Homo sapiens: one gene and its partners. The protein of the gene in region 2 purifies or fractionates together with the protein of the main gene of each other region. This does not show direct contact. Each region holds a gene or a part of one and is shown on either strand. Other genes may lie near its edges. The genes, in order: SEMA3C, EPDR1 and METRNL.

Region 1 (3,658 bases), about 43 Mb from region 2:
CAATCATTACAAATACTCTCTACAAAAGTATTTGGAAAGCATTAGTTTAGCTCCAATATATTTTGGTAATCAGGCAAAAGTAAATAAAATGGAAGGATTACATCCCAAATGACATGTAAAATTAAAAGTTGCAGAGAAGAATGCTTTTATAATAATTACTGTTACTCCATGAAGTTTATTGTTTAACTCATAAAATGTAACTGTTGAATAATTACCTTGATGTTGTAAAAATGCCATACACTAGTGTTGTCCTCGGGTTATCAGTTTCCAGCAGAAACACATCCTCTATAAAAAGGAAAATATTCTTTTAAAGTTTCTAAATATTAACTTCTTTGTTTTGAAAAATTTACCCTAAGAAAATAATTTCAACTCTGAAAAGTACTCTGCAAAAAGATATTCCTGTACCATTATGGTAATTTGGAAACAAATAATGATAGAAACACTAAATTAAATTAAATTAATACAGATACTAATGGAATTTATGAAAATTTTGTATCCTTGTGAAAACCATGCTAGTAAAATAATATTATGGGGAAAAAGTACAATGATATATTACATAATATGGACTAGAACCATATTAACCTTAAAAATATCCATCAGAATATAAGAATAAGATTAACAGTGAGTGTTACAAGAGGCAAAGCTGTAGAAATATTCTGGTGCTTCTTTCTAAATATCCTTTAATGTTAATATATTACTGTTTTAATTAAAAAAATTACAAATCTCAATTTCTTTTTGATCTAATCTTAGGAGCTGGAAGATGGAATAAAACTTTTTCACGGTAACTCATCTTACCATCAAATAGAACTTTTTGTGGCATATGGTCAAAATTGCTAGTGATACTTTTATTTAATGATAGCTCCTCTAACAAAAAGATGTTTAAAGTGTAGTAAGGCAAAAACAAAAGTATGCACAGTGAAGTGATAAATAACAGAATATGAAAGTAGATTTCTGATAGAAAACTCCAATTAATAATCAATTGCCATGATTATATGAAAGGCCCAGACATAGTGACAATCTTGCTAACAGAATTATTACTGAGAAACACAAAGAAATATGTATTTATTTTAAATTAAAAATGAATTTAAATGACCTCATAAGCAATAAATTTATAACCACTCAAACAACAAATTAACAATCACTAGTCCTTCCATATGTGAATAAAGGCTGACAATGTCTAGCTCTCCCTAAAAAAAAAAGAAAGACTGAAACATAAAATATATTCCCAAACATTCAGGGGAGTAGAATGAGCAAGTAGCCTGTTTCACAAAATGATACTTAGAACTTTTCTCTAGAAAAGCTTATCTAGAAACTTTTGTTCCATAATCAACATAATGGTTTTTGATCAGAAGAACGATATAGTTCATTACTATTAGAATCAGTAAATTTTTTCCACATGGTAACACAGATTTATAACTTATCACCTGTCTCAAAATCTGAGAATGACCATTATTTTACCTTCTAATGAATTAAGGTGAAAGAAAAGTCATTTACAAATGACATTTAGTAAATATGATGTGCCCTGGGATATTCAGATTAAAAAAATAAAAAAACTGTTCCTTGGCAGAGGGAATCAGACTGTCAGTCCTTATTCGACCTGGAAAGTGTAAGCCTCCTCATGTCACATTGAGAATATCTAATCTCAGAGTCACCAAGCAGAACTAAGAAGGGAACACAAGTCTCCAAATTTCTACTCTGACACTTTTTTCCATCCAAACTCTATCCTGTCCATTAGCTACAATAGTAAAAATATATAGCTGTATTTTCACACAAAATCAGAATATTAGATATTCTAATATACATGAAATAAATATTCATTTATAAAAACACAAACATATCATTACCTATACACACATTATACAAGTTACACCCCCAAACACACACATTCATTCATATATTATGGTGAATTCAATGAGCTAAATGTTTCAGCAGTGCACTCATGGGCGTAACAGATTACAAAATACTTAAGAAAATTTATGAACAGTATCTAGATAATTATTTTAAATTAGCATATTATTTATGCTGAAAATATGGAAAGTACATCTTCTTTTGAGACCTTATTTAAATATATAAACTTTACAAGCCTTCTTTCAGAAGCATTTTTCAATCTCATATGTATGTACCTAATTCATCAAAGTGTGTTTCTGGGCCGTCTTCATCTGTTACCGAGCACACCAGCCTCGCCTTTAAGAAAGTGGTCCACTTGTTGACAAGGCTACGCAGTCCACCAGTGTCATTCTAAAACCATTTTGTAAACATAATTCAGATTGCTTAAGTAAATATTGAAGCACATTAAAAATTCGACTTGTACTCTAGTTGCTTGGAGGATGAAAATCTGAAGAATGGATATGTTAACCACTTCTGCACATCAGTTGTCAAAGAGGAATATTTATGACTTATAGTATTTTATACAATAGTTATACTATTATTCTCTTATAGCATGATGTCAGCTGAAAATACATTTATTTGATAAATGTGTGACATAATTATTTCTAATTTTAACGATGTACAATGGAAGTATTTATATAATGTTATAGAAAATAGATCATTTAATCTGCCTTTCCTTGATAATTTATTGTCTTCAATTTGAACATAAATTATTATACACAGTGAGTTTTGCAGATTGTGGTCAGGAGAGTGATTATATCTTTACACAAAATGGTCCCCAACAGTTTTACATTCACTCCTTCATTTATCCAAATTATCACATAATTTTCAGTATTTCTAATCTGATGCCTAATTATACATTATAAGGAGAAATGGCATTTGGATCATTCACAAATAGTCTCCAGTGAAGACATTTTCTTCCTGTGTCCAAAGGCCTTTTACCCCTTCTGCTGACTTCGCTGCCTTGTTGCAAATGACTGAGAAACAGTTGAGCTCCATGATCAGTGGAGTATTATAATATATAAACTATTTTAAACACTAAGCACTTTAAGAAACATTTTTTCACAAAGGATGCTAATCATAAATAAGTCAGGATAAGTCTGTAAAACTCTATTATAGAAAGGACATCACAAATTTTCTTGTGTTGCTATGTATACTTATTGTTTCTACACAAGAGCATTTTGGTTACTGTTTTTAATTAGAATTTTATTAAAGCTTTTCTTAATTTTCACTATTTATAAATGGTTCCTTAATAATCATCTCTTACTGAGATATTTACTGTATTTTATTGACAACAATCAGTTTCTTTAGGTAATATGCAATTTAGCTATTGGTTTGAATACCAATGCATTAAATGAATATGCAAAAATTTGTCAGAAGTGTTTATTTGTTCAAGAACAAAAACAAAATATTTTCTTGAATTAAGATTTTTACTAAAATAGGGTATGTTTATCTCATATAACTTATTGAGGGTTAGAATTTGGGTTGGGGTTATAAACACTATATTCAATATAAAATGATGAATATTAAATATAATAATGATGATGAATAAATGTTACATTAAATGCTTCCCTCAATATTTTATTTATTTGTAATGGTTGATAATAAAAGCACGGAGATAAACCATAATTTGAATTTCTTGGTCTTTCTTCAAATCGGAACAGCATTAATACTTACAGGACATATTCGAGCAATCATGGAATGAATCTGTTTCGTGCTCCTGTTATTGTCAGTCAGTTTTTCTTTGAAGAAGAAGTACACCTTAGCATCA
Region 2 (3,658 bases):
TTGTGAACTTTTGTTTACCCACAGAGACACAGGAGGACTTGACTCTTGTGTGGTGCATTTTCTCTCACAGCACTCAGTCAAGGAATTATGGGGGTATACTGAACATAGGACAAGAACACACTGAGGACTGGATGGACCGAGTGCCTGTGCTTCACTGCCTCCACTGCCGAGCAGTCATGAGTAAGGGGCTTTGATGCGCATAGCTGATCCGGCACGGGCGCAGCCCACATACCCTGCAGTGGCTGAGATGAGAGCAAAGACAAAAGCTGAGGCGACCCCAGAGCAAATGACTCCCTTAGCTGAGTTTCTCTCCATGCTCTCAGCCTCCTCCCGTGACCACCTGCTCACCCTTCCTGGGGAGTGACAGGGAGATATTCAGAGGCTGAGCCCAGGAGTCACCAGCCATGCAGTATTGGCATCAGTCCTGTATCTTCCTTAAAGCTGAGACATCTTGGTGTTGGGGGAAGCCTGCTGTGTTTCTATGCATTTCACTGTCAATCTAAAACTCAGGCCACAGCTGCTGGTCAAGAAAATGTGTCTTGCAGCCATGACCTCAGAAAGTGAAATCTGCAACACTTGAGGGCTGAAGAGCCTAGAGAAGTGACTTGTCATCAGCAAATAAAAATAGCCAACAAATTATCTGTGGCTTATGAGACCCAATGCACTAGAGGAGACTTCAGGGAAGACATTTGCTCTCCAGCCCAAGCCCGAGCTTAAAAACTATTTTCTTCGGAAAAAAATGTTAGAAATGGTTACTGTCTTTATAGTCAAAACACAGTCGTGCGTCACTTCATGATAGGCTTATGTTCTGAGAAATGTGTCATTAGGCTATTTCATCACTGCACGAACATCATAGAGTGCAGTTACACAAATCTGGATGGTACAGCCTACTACACAACAGGGCTACACAGTATGGCCTACTGCTCCCAGGGTACAAACCTGTACTGCATGTGACTGCACTAAATACTGGAGGCAACTGTAACACAATGGTAAGCATTTATGTATCTAAACATAGAAAAGGTGCAGTAAAAATATGGGATAAAATATAAAAAATGGTACGCATGTATAGGGTACTTGCCATGAATGGAGCCTGCAGGACTCGAAGTTGCTCTGGGTAGGTGAGTGAGTGAGTGAGTGGTGACAGAATGTGAAGGCCTAGGACATTTCTATACACTTCTGTAGGCTTTATAAACATTGTACACTTAGGCTACACTAAATTTATAAAAACTATGTTCCTTTCTTCAATAATACATTAATTTTAGCTTCCTGTAACTTTTTAACTTTATATACATTTTGATTTTTTAAACTTTTTGACTCTTTTGTAGTAAGACAGCTTAAAACACAAATTGCACAGCTATACAAAAATATTTTCTTTATGTCCTTATTTGATATGCTTTTTTCTATTTTAAAATTTATTTTATTAAAAAAAAAACTTTGTGTTAAAAATTACAACACAAACACAGATATTAGCCAGGCCTACACAAGGTTAGGATCATAAGTATCACCCTCTTTCACTCCCACATCTTGTCCCACTGGAAGGCTGTCAGGGCCAGTAACATGCATGGAGCTGTCACCTCCTATAATAACAATGTTTTCTTCTGGATACCTCCTGAAGGACCTGCCTGAGGCAGTTTCACAGTTACCTTTTATGTAAGTGGGAGCACACTCTAAAATAACGATAAAAGTATAATATAGTAATTACATACATGTGGCCAACAAACATAGGAAAAAAAGCCCAACATCACTGATCATTAGAAAAATGCACATCAAAAACACAAAAAGACACCATCTCATGCCAGTCAGAATGGCTATTAATAAAAAGTCAGAAAACAACAGATGCTGGCGAGGTTGTGGAGAAAAAGGAACACTTTTACACTGTTGATGGGAGTATAAATTAGTTCAACCATTGTGGAAGACAGCGTGGCAATTCCTCAAAGACCTAGAACCAGAAATACCATCAACCCACCAATCCCATTACTGTGTATATACCCCAAGGAATATAAATCATTCTATTCTAAAGATACATGCATACCTGTGTTCATTGCAGCACTATTCACAATAGCAAAGACGTGGAATCAACCTAAATGCCATCAATGATAGACTGAAAATGTGGATAAAGAAAATGGGGTACATATACACAATGGAATACTATGCAGCCATAAAAAGGAACAAGATCATGTCCTTTGCAGGGACATGGATGGAGTTGGAAGCCATTATCCTCAGCAAATTAACACAGAAACGGAAAAGCAAATACTGCATGTTCTCACTTATAAGCGGGAGCTGAATGATGAGAACAAATGGACGCGTCGGGGAAGCAACACACACTGGGGCCTGTTGGTGGAGCTTGGGGGAGGGGGAGCATCAGTAAGAATAGCTAATGGATGCTGGGCTTAATACCTAGGTGATGGGATGATCCGTGCAGCAAGATACCATGGCACACGTTCACTTGTGTAACAAATCTGCACATCCTGCACATGTACCCCTGACTTAGAATAAAAGTTGAAGAAAAAAAAGTATAATACAGTAATTACTTATATGCTAGAATTGTGTACAACTGACAGCACAGTAAGTTTGTTTACACCACCACCACCCCAGACATGTGAGTAATGCACTGCGCTACCACATACTATGGCTATGAGGTCACTAGGCAATGGAAGTTTTTCAGCTCCATTGTAATCTCATGGGACCACCACTTCATTGACTGAAACGTCATTATGAAGCACATCATTGTATTATTAGTAGCCGTATGCTTCAGGTTTCTATGAGGTAGTATGGAAATATAAACATGACATCATTTTACACCTTTATGTGTATCTTGTTTATTTCAGAAAAGATTTGAAACGGCTTACAAGGGTAAAAATAACCCAGACACATACCTTTAGAAATGAGAATGAATATAGAAAGAAATATAAGTGTGCATTTTATGAGATATTGCTCAAAAATGGAGCTAATTTTTTATAATATGCATGCAGGGTCAACGTAAAACTGTTAGCCCTTTGAAAAAGTTTGGGTTTGGATTGTCACTGTTTTCTCATAACCAGCTAAATCTCTGACACAATAGAGCCTAAGCACTGATTGAAGAAACACAGCAACATTAACCCAACTCTTAGAGCATTGTTCATTTGTAAATATGGGAATTGTTGTCCATACACAAATCCTGTCCTGTGATACTTTTAATGACCCGTGGGCCACCCAAAAAACAAGTTGTCTTCATTGTTCTCCTCACCACCAGCAATATCTTGTGCTTTCCCCAGTGCTAGATATCTGGGCTAGAAAGGCATTCCTAGCTTTTGCTGATATCCCTGTTGTGTGCTTCTCAGACTGCAATAGTTGTTCCCTGGAGAATATGTAGCCATGTGCAGGAGAGGGGGTTTCCTTCTTGAAATCATCGCCATCACTCCCCAAATCCACAGGATCACAGAAGTGTCATTAATATGGTTTGGCTGTGTCCCCACCTAAATCTCATCTTGAATTGTAGCTCCCATAATTCTCATGTGTCATGGGAGGGACCTGGGGGGAGGTAATTGAATAATGGGCACGGTTCTTTCCCATGCTTTTCTTCTGGTAGTGAATAAGTCTCACAAGGTCTGATGGTTTTATAAATGGGAATTCCCCTGCATAAGCTCTCTCTTGCCTGCCACCACGTAAGAAGTCCCTT
Region 3 (3,165 bases), on a different chromosome or scaffold from region 2:
ACTTAACACCTGCCGTGCAATCTAAGTCCCCGCAGCAGCGTCCCCAACCCCACCCTGCCGGTCCCTCCCACCCTGTTCATGCTAGCTCCTGAGAGACCTGCCTGAGATGTCCACACCCCAGCCCTCCCCCTCCGAGGAGGATGGACCAGGATTCCAACCCTTTGCCGACCCTCCCCACCGCCCTGGAGACGAGGTGCAATGTGTCCGTGAGCAGCGCGTTCCGCAGCCTTTATGAGCCTGGCTCCTGTTAATAATTGTCTCCCGATTGTCTCCCGGCGTCCACCGGCGTCCACCCTGCATTCTCCGTGAAGGTGACTTCTGCTTTGTAAAGCTCAGAATCAGAACAGGGAGGTCTCCAGGGTGCTCCTTACGAGCTCAGCTGTCGTTGGGTCGTCTCCAGAGGCTTCTAGCAGGCGAGGCTGCAGGCACTGACCGTCCCCGGCCCCACACCCCTGCCGTCAGCCGGGTGAGCCAGGGCGGGGTACCCAGGGCACGTGAGGGCAGCGTCTCCATCCTCCCCCTCGGCCGTCCGCTGAGGTCGTGGGGCCGTGACTCACAGAGGGCGAAGTGCTAGGGCTTGCATACCCTCACGCGCCCAGGCCCCGGGGTGGGACGCATGTGGCTGGGCCTGTGGGCTCCCCTGCCCCAGGGTGGGAGCCACACACCCCCGCCCCGCCCCAGGGTGGGAGCCACACACCCCTGCCCCGCCCCAGGGTGGGAGCCACACACCCCCGCCCCGCCCCAGGGTGGGAGCCACACACACCCCCGCCCTGCCCCAGGGTGGGAGCCACACACACCCCCGCCCTGCCCCAGGGTGGGAGCCACACACACCCCCGCCCTGCCCCAGGGTGGGAGCCACACACACACCCCCCACCCCCCGCCCCAGGGTGGGAGCCACACACACACACACCCCCCCACACACACACCCCCCGCCCCACACACACACCCCCCGCCCCACACACACACACCCCCCGCCCCACACACACACCCCCCGCCCCACACACACACACACCCCCGCCCCACACACACACACCCCCGCCCCACACACACCCCCGACTGTGCTGCTGACTGTGAGGATGGACTTCCGGCACCTCCTGCCTCCTGCCTTTGCAGGACCGCCTGGCCCAGCCCCAGCTGCCATGGCTGCCCAGCCGGAGGGTGCTGCTCAGTGAGGGGACCCTCGGGTGGACTGGGGTCACCACGCTTCTGTCGTTGACCAGCTCTCTCTCAGCCGAGGCCACCTCCACTCACATGAGGCGCCCTGGGCTGGGACCTCTGGCCCTGTGGTACGGGGCAGGTGCTGGCGTGCAGTCTCACCTGTGGAGGATAAAAGTGCTGCCTGAAATTTGAGATCCCCCAGTGCTCCCTCCTTGTTGCTTCCGGACGTGAGTGGTGGTCTGTGCTGCTGGCCTCTGTCCAGCACGTGCCTGCATCAGGCCCAGCATGGTCTGCAGACCCCCAGCCGGCGAGTGGGATGGGGGTCCACATAGGTGAACTAAGTGTCAAGGGTGGGCCACACCCCGGGGCCCCCATAGGAGAGCGCACCGGGCGGCTTCCAGCTTGGGGGTCAGGAGGCCCCCGTGGTGGGGGCTGCAGTGTGAGTCTGTACACATCAGCAGGAAGGGGATTTGGCCAGAAGCTCCCATTCTGGAGGGTTGCTGGGATGGCAGAGGTGCCCCCCCAGTGCCAGGCTGGACCGGCCTCAAGGTGCTCAGCAGTGCCAGGCTGGACCGGCCTCGAGGCGCCCCCAGTGCCAGGCTGGACCGGGCCTCGAGGCGCTCAGCAGGCTGTGCAGTTTCTTTTTCCTGATACCTTAATGGAAGCAAATGCAGGAGGAGGTGGGTGGGCCGGTGAGTCAGGCACTGAGCCCGGCTGGGAGGCGCCCTCACCCCTGCCTGGCGGAAAGTGCTGGCCTTGTCTCTGGGTCCCTCCTACCTCCACCCTGCGGGGTCCACAAAGACCTGCGCTTGCCCAGTGCACCGTAGACTCCAGGGTCTCCGTTGACCACATGTGCAGGCCCTGAGGGTCCATGTAAGTTCCTGACCCCAGAAGGCCTCTGAGCAGCTGTCCCCGCCTTGGCCAAGGTGCCAGATATGTGTGCTGCCCTGTCCCCTGGGACCCCCAGTCACCAGCAGCTGGCTCGGGCCTGTACTCATCAGGCAGGTGACAGCTCAGCTCACTTCAGCCCAGCAAGGGCAGCCGGCCAGGGGTGCAGACGGCGTTAGCTTCTTCCAGGGCCGGCGAACCCCAAGTCAAGGTCGTCCCAGCTCTTGGCCAGGGACGTTTCAGAGCCTTCAGAACGTGAAATGGCACCGGCGAAACCAGTGCCATTGAGATTTCACGTCTCAAAGTTTCTATTGCGTTAGGAGACTTGGGGCCAAAACCTAGAGGCTCAGAACAGGTGAGGCCTTGAAACCTGCAATAAGAGCAAATAATAAAACCATGTTTTCCAAGTCCGTCCCGAGTGTAGGAATGCGGGGCGTGCAGAGGTTTCTGTTTCACAGTGGCCCGCCCATCTAAGAAACTGGGGCGAAGGGCAGGGCGAGGGCTGGGCCGAGGGGAGAAGGTTGTTGGGAAAGCCTGGTTTGGCCGGTACGGGAGCTCATTCTGAGAAGCCTCCGTGCTTTCCGCATTCTCTGGGGGAGGCCAGGCCCCGCAGGGTTCAGGGGCTTCAGAGGGGGTTCTGTGAGCAGGGCTTGGCTTGAAAGCCATTTGGGGCATGCACCTCATCCCGCGGCCAGGTGGCATCCGGGGAAGGGGCCGGGCCGATGGCCCTGACTGGAACTCACTGCCCTGCTGGGTGAGGCCCCACGCCGGTGGCAGGTGGACGCGTCGCTGCCTGCTTAGGGATCCCCTTCCTGGAATCTTGGCCTCGCTGGCCCTTCCAGCCACATGGGGGGTCCCGCGGGATGGGATCCTCCTTTTGGGTGCCGCTGCCGTCGCGACCCAGGGAAGTGGGCAGCAGAGCTGTGGGGAGTGTCTGCCCTTCGAGGAAGCTGGGAAATGAGGGTGGTCCCGGCGCCGTGGGCCGTGGAGGTGGGTTGGGGGCGACTCTGGGAGGTGGGGGTGCTCCTGGCGCCGTGGGCTGTGGAGGTGGGTTGGGGGCGACTCTGGGAGGTGGGGGTGCTCCCGGCGCCGTGGGCTGTGGAGGTGGGTTGGGGGCGA

The links.
Region 1: the proteins of EPDR1 (region 2) and SEMA3C purify together in Homo sapiens (affinity purification with mass spectrometry; one large-scale study listed by BioGRID and IntAct). This does not show direct contact.
Region 3: the proteins of EPDR1 (region 2) and METRNL purify together in Homo sapiens (affinity purification with mass spectrometry; one large-scale study listed by BioGRID and IntAct). This does not show direct contact.

What each region holds. Positions count from the first base shown.
Region 1 is NC_000007.14:80,800,542-80,804,199, forward strand, and holds part of SEMA3C (semaphorin-3C isoform 2 precursor), read right to left. Parts: coding exon 3,565-3,658; intron 2,239-3,564; coding exon 2,124-2,238; intron 286-2,123; coding exon 216-285; intron 1-215. UniProt on the Homo sapiens protein: Binds to plexin family members and plays an important role in the regulation of developmental processes. Required for normal cardiovascular development during embryogenesis.
Region 2 is NC_000007.14:37,944,569-37,948,226, reverse strand, and holds part of EPDR1 (mammalian ependymin-related protein 1 isoform 1 precursor), read right to left. Parts: intron 1-3,658. UniProt on the Homo sapiens protein: Binds anionic lipids and gangliosides at acidic pH.
Region 3 is NC_000017.11:83,089,475-83,092,639, forward strand, and holds part of METRNL (meteorin-like protein isoform 1 precursor), read left to right. Parts: intron 1-3,165. UniProt on the Homo sapiens protein: Hormone induced following exercise or cold exposure that promotes energy expenditure. Induced either in the skeletal muscle after exercise or in adipose tissue following cold exposure and is present in the circulation.